Linked DNA regions of Homo sapiens. The protein of the gene in region 1 interacts with the protein of each later gene in a pairwise test. Each region holds a gene or a part of one and is shown on either strand. Other genes may lie near its edges.

Evidence for each region.
Region 2: the proteins of NAV2 (region 1) and PSTPIP1 interact in a two-hybrid assay, tested with the Homo sapiens proteins (one large-scale study listed by BioGRID).

What each region holds. Positions count from the first base shown.
Region 1 is NC_000011.10:20,114,700-20,118,517, forward strand, and holds part of NAV2 (neuron navigator 2), read left to right. Parts: coding exon 1-96; intron 97-2,490; exon of another isoform or gene 2,491-3,073; intron 3,074-3,433; coding exon 3,434-3,559; 3' UTR 3,560-3,818. UniProt on the Homo sapiens protein: Possesses 3' to 5' helicase activity and exonuclease activity. Involved in neuronal development, specifically in the development of different sensory organs.
Region 2 is NC_000015.10:77,001,405-77,005,222, forward strand, and holds part of PSTPIP1 (proline-serine-threonine phosphatase-interacting protein 1), read left to right. Parts: intron 1-3,818. UniProt on the Homo sapiens protein: Involved in regulation of the actin cytoskeleton. May regulate WAS actin-bundling activity. Bridges the interaction between ABL1 and PTPN18 leading to ABL1 dephosphorylation.

The DNA.
Region 1 (3,818 bases):
CGGCCTGAGGATGTCGGCTTCGACGGCTACTCCATGCCTCGGGAGGGATCGACAAGCAAGCAGATGCCCCCCAGTGATGCTGAAGGTGACCCGCTGGTGAGTCCTCAGCCACCAGAGCAGCTCAGCATTCCTTTAGCACTTACTGTGTGTTGGGTATGATGCAGAGCCTCTGGAAATACAAAGGTGACTAAATCCAGCCTTGCTTTGGAAGGCTGGACCCAAATGACTGGGCCATTTTTGCCAATATTTTCTTCCATGGTTTTAGTTTTTCACTAAAAACTTCTCCTCTGAAATTTTTTTCTGGTATTAGATAACAGATTAAGAATTGATTTTTCCCCTTAAATGTTCTTATACCTACTGTCTCTATACAACACTTTGCCCTCTGATTTGGGATGCCACCTCTATTACCTACTATCCTATTACTTTGATCTCTCCTACCGATAGCAGAGCAGAGGAAGAGATTGCTAAGGACCAGAAGCCCAAGGCAAATGATAGGGTAAACAGGGAGAGGTCTGAGGGCAGGAGGGACTCACAGAGGGGAGGAGGCCTGAATATGAGTCCCATGGCCATTGAGATGAGCTAAGTCTTTCACACTGTTTAAGCTTCTTATTTATTCGGCTGTTGCTAAAACAATAAAGGCCCTTTAAGAAGCACCCAGGCTGGGGTGGCTCACACCTGTAATCCCAGCACTTTGAGAGGCCAAGGCGGGTGGATCGAGGTCAGGAGATCGAGACCATCCTGGCTAACATGGTGAAACACCGTCTCTACTAAAAATATAAAAATTTAGCTGGGCGTGGTGGCAGGCACCTGTAGTCCCAGCTACTCGGGAGGCTGAGGCAGGAGAATGGCGTGAACCCGGGAGGTGGAGCTTGCAGTGAGACGAGATCGCGCCACTGCACTCCAGCCTGGGCAACAGAGCAAGACTCCGTCTCAAAAAAAAAAAAAAAAAAAAAAAAGCACCCGGGCTGGGTGTGGTGGCTCATGCCTGTAGTCCCAGCACTTTTGGTGGGCAGTTACAGCCTGGGCAACGTAACAAAACCTCTTCTCTACAAAAAATACAAAAATTAACTGGGCATGGTGGCACATGCCTATAGTCCCAGCTACTCAGGAGGCTGAGGTGGGAGGAGGGCTTGAGCCTGGGAGGCAGAGTTTGCAGTGAGCCAAGATTGTGCCACTGCACTCCAGCCTGGTTGATAGAACCAAACCTTGTCTCAAACAAACAAAAGAAACACCCGGGCCAATAACAGTAGTATTTCTAATCGATTGTAGTACTCTACCAATATAAGACCCACACAGAGTCACACTGCTAAATTAGACCTAACAAATCAAAAGCCCAGTAAAATAAAAAGGAAGCAAATATACCAAAACCTCCCATGGTTAAAGGACTATTATCATGCCTTAAATTTAGCCCCAAGCTTTCTTGGCAGGCATAGCAAAAAGAAAACATAACAGAGAATATTATTTACATTACCTAATGAAAGAAAATATTATAAGAGATGTAGCAGGATTAAAAGACAACTGATTTACTGTTCTATTCCTAGCAGCTAATTAAGTCCCTAGATTAAAAAAATAATAATAATATTAATAGGCGATTCAGGTTGTCTGCCATCCTACTGTTTGGTGGGATGTAGCTGTGGTTCTGTTGAAGATTGCAGTGGGAACTGTATTTTTTAAGGATTTATTATTTGTGTTGCCATGTACAACCTAGTTTGCAATATTTATAACAGTAGTCTTACAAAGGAAAGAAGCATACTTTAAACAGCCGTTTGCAACGTTAACCATTGCTGAAAGCCAAAGTCACGGAGGTATTTTTTGCAGGGGCAAACTCATGAGGTCTTAACTTACATAGAAAATAGAATTTAGTATATTTAGAGGAAAGAATGGCCAGCCCATCCCTAAACAATCTTTTCTGAGCCAGTAACATTTGTATCACTGGTTGGACACAGAAGGTGTGTAGGTAAGACCCAGGATTCTTGGAAATGCAGAAACAGATTTCTCCTTCCAACCCCAGGCCCCCAGAAGTGAGCTGTGCCAGTCCAGCCACTTCCATTACCGAGTTAGATATTTGGTATTTCTCCTCAGTTCTGCTCTTTCTGCCCAGGGCCATATGTCTCTATTATCATAGCTCTCTTCTGTATTAATCCTTCTCACTCATGAGACTGAGACTTCCATGAAAACAGAATTTACTTGCTTTTGTTCCAGAACCATATACTGTGGACACACTGGGAGTGTTTAATGAGTGAATAAGTAATCCCAGTTGCCAAGGATTGTCCATTATACTTCAGCTCTGCCTCTTCCCTAGTTATGGCTGTGCAGATGGACACCAGATGATGGTGCTTCTGCAGCCTGGCGCATCTGGGTAGACTCTGCAAAGCATCCTGAGGGGCAGCTGGATTGTATGCCCAGCTGCACCACATCTTGGCCCTAGCTCAGAGAGGCCCCATATTCCTGACTTACTTCCTATATGAAATATAAAATACATACACACAATTTACAGTTATAAATAAAAGTAGTTTTTATTCCCTCTCCCACTCCCAAACAAGTGACCCGTAGTATGTAAACAAGGGCAGATTCAAGAACACTGTCGCTAAACTCTTTTAAGTTAGATGATGATGACAACAGATGACATTTATTAAGCGCTTACTATATGCCAGGCCAGCCCCTTTTCTAAGGGTTTAATACACATTATATCATTTTATTCCCTACTTCAACCCTATGAGAAGTGTTGCCATTCTCCCCATTCCACAGATGACGAACTGCTGGCTCAGATACCTTAGGTAACTTGCCCAGAGATTCCTGAATCATAAGCGAAGGCTCTTTGCACTCGGAGCCTTTGCTTGTAACTGGTGCTCCCCCTCACCTCCCTGCCAAGGCTTCCACAGGAGCTGCAGCACAGTTGGCTCCAGTCTGACCTGGCCAGAGCAAGGAGAAGAGATGGGTTTGATGCTTGTTGAAGTGGGAGGGGGTCCATGTGCTTCCGATGTCAGTGATGCTGATGCCAAGTTCCAGGAACAGGGATGCTCAGCCACACCTTCATCCAGGCCGAGGGCTAGGCCTGAAAGGTGTGCCCCTCCTAAATAAAAAATAAATAAGCTATGTATAGAGATCATCATTTTGTTTTCAGTGCTCTACGTATATTAACTCAATCCACCCATAACATTATAGGGCAGGTACTATTATTATTCACATTTGACCAGTAAAGAAACAAGTATAAAGAGGTTAAGTAATGTGTTCAAAGTCATGCAGCTAGTAATTGGTGAAGCTGGGATTTGAACCCTAGAAGCCTGGCCCAAAGTCCATGTTCTTGTCCACTGCCTCCACTGTGGGCTGTTATCCCAGGTGAGTCTGGAGGAGGTGGCATGACCTTTTAGGAGTCCAGGGTGGGCGGCCAACTAGACAGAAAGCAGCTCATGCTTCTCCACTCTTCCCCTAGATGAACATGCTGATGAGGCTGCAGGAGGCAGCCAACTACTCCAGCCCCCAGAGCTATGACAGCGACTCCAACAGCAACAGCCATCACGATGACATCTTGGACTCCTCTTTGGAGTCCACTCTGTGACAGGGGCCCGGAGCCCAGCGCCCTCCTCTTCTCCTCACCGCATTCCACCTGCATCCCCCACATCACCCTGAAGATGACTTCCTGAGCCAGCCCCCAGCCACAGCCTTAGAGCTGCGGGAACACCGAGACCCCCCGTCCTTCAGCCTCGACCTGGGTGCAGGCATCCCGGGCCAGCTGCCTGCGGACCGCTTCCTTCCACAGCGAGAACTGCACTACCTTCTGTTGTACTTTAATTATTGTTTTGCCTTGTTGCTGTGAC
Region 2 (3,818 bases), on another chromosome or scaffold:
AGGGCCTGTGGATGGGGCCCTGCTGGAAACCAGAGCCTGCACTGACTTTGTGGAAGGCCTTGCAGCCCAGCAAACTGCTGTGGCTTTGAGGGCCAAGGAGGCCAGTGGCTGAGGAGTGGCCCTGGTGCACTCAGAGCTTGCAGACAGTGCAGGAGGTGGGAGAGAGAGGCCCTGGCCATCCTGCCTTTGCTGCCACCAAGTACCTTCCCGGCACCTGCCTGGCTGCATCTGTCAGAAGCAGTGAGGACGGAGGCTCTCCCTTTCCTGATTGGGAAAGCTCTTTAAGACCTGGTGTTCCCTGTAAAAAGCAGAGAGCCTGGCAGTGCACCTGGTCGGCAACCCGTTGTGAAAAGTGGGGAAATAAGCATTTATACTGGCGCAGGCTTGTAGTATTAACAACAAAAATCTGTGGACGGATGCACAGGGAGCTAATTAAAGTGGTTGCCTGTTGGGAGAATGAGAGAAAGGAGATGGATGAGGGATGAGGCTGAGCGGCTGTGAACGTTTTCAGGATTGATGTTTTTATACTGTTTGATTTTTGAACCATATGAATGTATTAATTATTCAAAAATTAAATCAAACAATTAAAAATGAAAAAGAGGACATTTATTTCAAGTCCCATGAAGAATTTTTCCCTGAATCCCAGCTACTTACATCATCCCCTGAGGAGCAGCAATGCTGCCATTTGCTGAGTGCCTGTTCCATGCCAGGCATGCTGCCATTCAGTCCACATGCCCCCAAACGCATTGTCAGTGTCTTCCTGACTCTGTGATGGGACCTAAGGCACGGCAGGTCTAGGCCCAGACGAGGGTCACCTGTGCAGGGTAGAGCAGGGACTCCCACCTAGGTCTGTCGAACTCTATTGCCCTCTGCCCTGAATTCTAGAGAGTTTGTTCTTGCTTCTACTTTAATTTGTGTAGGATGAAAGGATGCTTCCCTACATGTTAACACTGGTGTCTATGGATTTGGAAGTAGGATTCTCTCCATCCCCCATCTAATTTTCTGCAAGTCAATACAGAGTACCTTTGTCATTAAAAAGAAAATATTTAAAAAGAAAACTAAGCAATTCCTGCTTTCAAGAATGAGTTGGTGTTTCTAGGCCAAATTTGTGGTTTGCTAGCATGCCCTTTTCCACATGCTCGGTGCATATTTTGTGGTACGTGGGCCTCTGGGGACCAAGAACTTCGTTCATCTGTGCCCATTCCACAGGACGTGGCCGGCTGCTCAGGTGTTAGAAGATTGCAGAGGTTTGTGGTCATGCTTGCTTTGCTTTTGCGATGCCTGCAGATGGTCACTGCCAGGATTTGCTGGCTGCAGGGTTCTGGGTCGATTTGGTGTTCTGAATTCAATTTTATTCTTGATAAAAAACAAGATCTGCTTCTTGATGACCCACTTTGTGCTCCAGTCCCCTGGAACCCACATGCTTTTCCTGGCTGCTCCTGACATCTACACAGAACTAGGGCAGCCCCTGGGATGGAGAAGGAGGGCCTTGCTTTGGGCTTTGAAGGGTGGGTGAGGATTTGAGACATGTCAGGAGGACAAACGGCACTCAAGGTGGGAGGTACGGCATGGGCAAAGGTGTGGAAGGGGGTTTGGAAGACAGTTTTCTGGCCCAGAGCATTGTGCAAGGTGACTGGTAGGAAGGGAAGGCACGAGCTGGATTGTGAAAGGTCTCTGCCCTAAGTGGTGGCAGAGATACTTTCTTCTGCCTCTCTGCACCCTCTCTGGTGGTGGCTGTTTCCTCTCATGCAAAAGAGGACAGAGGCTGCGGGCTGTGAGTGGGATGCCCTTCCTCCTCACCCAGAGCCTGGCTGACGCTGCAAACCACATGATGGAGGGAACTTTGGGTGGAAACCAAGACTGCCTCTGCTTCCAGCTAGAGAGCATGATGCCCTGGGCCCTGGGCTGCCCACACCAGGACTCTCCTCTGGGTTGGCTCTGGAAGGTTCCTCCCTCACAGACTCAGTCATGCTCCATCCTCCAGGCTTAGAAGGAAATCGGCTTCTTGGGAGGCCGAGGCGGGTGGATCATCTGAGGTCAGGGGTTCGAGACCAGCCTGGCCACCATGGTGAAACCCTGTCTCTACTAAAACTACAAAAAAATTAGCGGGGCATGGTGGCGCATGCCTGTAATCCCAGCTACTCAGGAGGCTGAGGCAGGAGAATCGCTTGAACCCAGGAGGTGGAGGTTGCAGTGAGCTGAGGTTTCACAATTGCACTCCAGCCTGGGCAAAAGAACGAAACTCCGTCTCAAAAAAAAAAAAAGAAGAAGAAGGAAGCGGGCTTCTTTGAAGCCTCACCCAACCCTCACCCACACTTGCTAGGTGGCCTTGGAGAATCATTTTCCCTTTCTGAACCTCAGTTTCCTCATCTGCAGGATGTCAGGGTCGTCATCACTTAAGATAAGGGCTTTGAGGTTGGGGCGGCTCAGGGCAGTGCTAAGGGACCACCTCCTGCTCACCACAGTGGAGTAGCAGACCAGGAACAGTTCCCAGGGGACCCAGATTTATAATTGGATATGCACCCATAGGGTGAGCCTTATACATAGATCTTGCTGTTTCAGAATGCCTCCTCCAATCATGTTCACCATTGCATGTTATACTCCACCATTAGAGAATCATTCCTTTGGTTTCAAGTAACAAGATGATCTATGTTATCTCACTTAATTCCAACAATAGTCCTGTGAGGTCAGTATTCTTATTCCTGTTTTACAGAGAGGAAACTGAGCCTCTTGGAAGGAATGTGGGCCTGGGGGATGCCACACAGATGGATCGGACTGGGCTGGGCCTGGATGCCACCTTCCCAGGTCTGGGTCAGAGAGCCCTTTGCAGTTAATGGGAGGGTGTGTTGGTTTGCTGAGGCCTGGCACACTGAGCAATGGGTGATGGAACAGGCAGGAGAGCGACAGCTCCTTCCACTGGTGTTGACAGGCCACCCACCATTGGGCAACAGGAAGTGCCAGCTGGAGCCCTGGAGACCAGCAGCCAGTGTGGGGATGTGGTGGCCAGATGGAACTCAGGGCTTCCCAGCTGTGGAAACAGGAACGGGAAACAGCCACACTGGGGAGGAAGTCAGGGGGTGATGGGCTGAGGCAAGAGCATGCCTGCGTGGCTAGAGAGAGTGACCAAGGTGGAGAGTAGTTGGAGATAAGGTAAGAAATAGAACAGTGGCCAGGCGTGGTGGCTCACACCTGTAATCCCAGCACTTTGGGAGGCTGAGGTGGGAAGATCACTTGAACCCAGGAGTTCAAGACCAGTCTGGGCAACATGGTGAAACCACTTCTTAAAAAAAAAAAAAAGTACAAAAATTAGCTGTACCTGGTGGTGCACACCTGTAGTCTCAGCTACTTGGGAAGCTGGAGTGGAAGGGTCACTTGAGCCCAGGAGTTGGAAACTGTAGTGACTGTATGATCGCACCACTGCACTCCAGCCTGGGCAACAGAGCAAGACTGTCTCAAAACAAACAAACAAACAAACAAAAAAAACAAAGAAAGAAAAGAGAAGCAGAGAGCCAGATCTTGTAGGACTGTCATTCTAAAAAATCCCAATGCCCAGGCCACACCCCAGGTCAATTACACCCCGATTTCTGAGGGTAGGACCTGGACATCAGTATTTTTCAAAGTTCCCCAGTGCCTCCATGTGGAACTTTAGCTTGAGAGGCATCAACATAGATAATTGTGGTAATTAATTACCATTGCTGGCCAAGCATGGTGGCTCATGCCTATAATCCCAGCAGTTTGGGAGGCCAAGGTGGGCAGATCACCTGAGGTCGGGAGTTCAAGACCAGCCTGGCCAACATGGTGAAACCCTGTCTCTACTA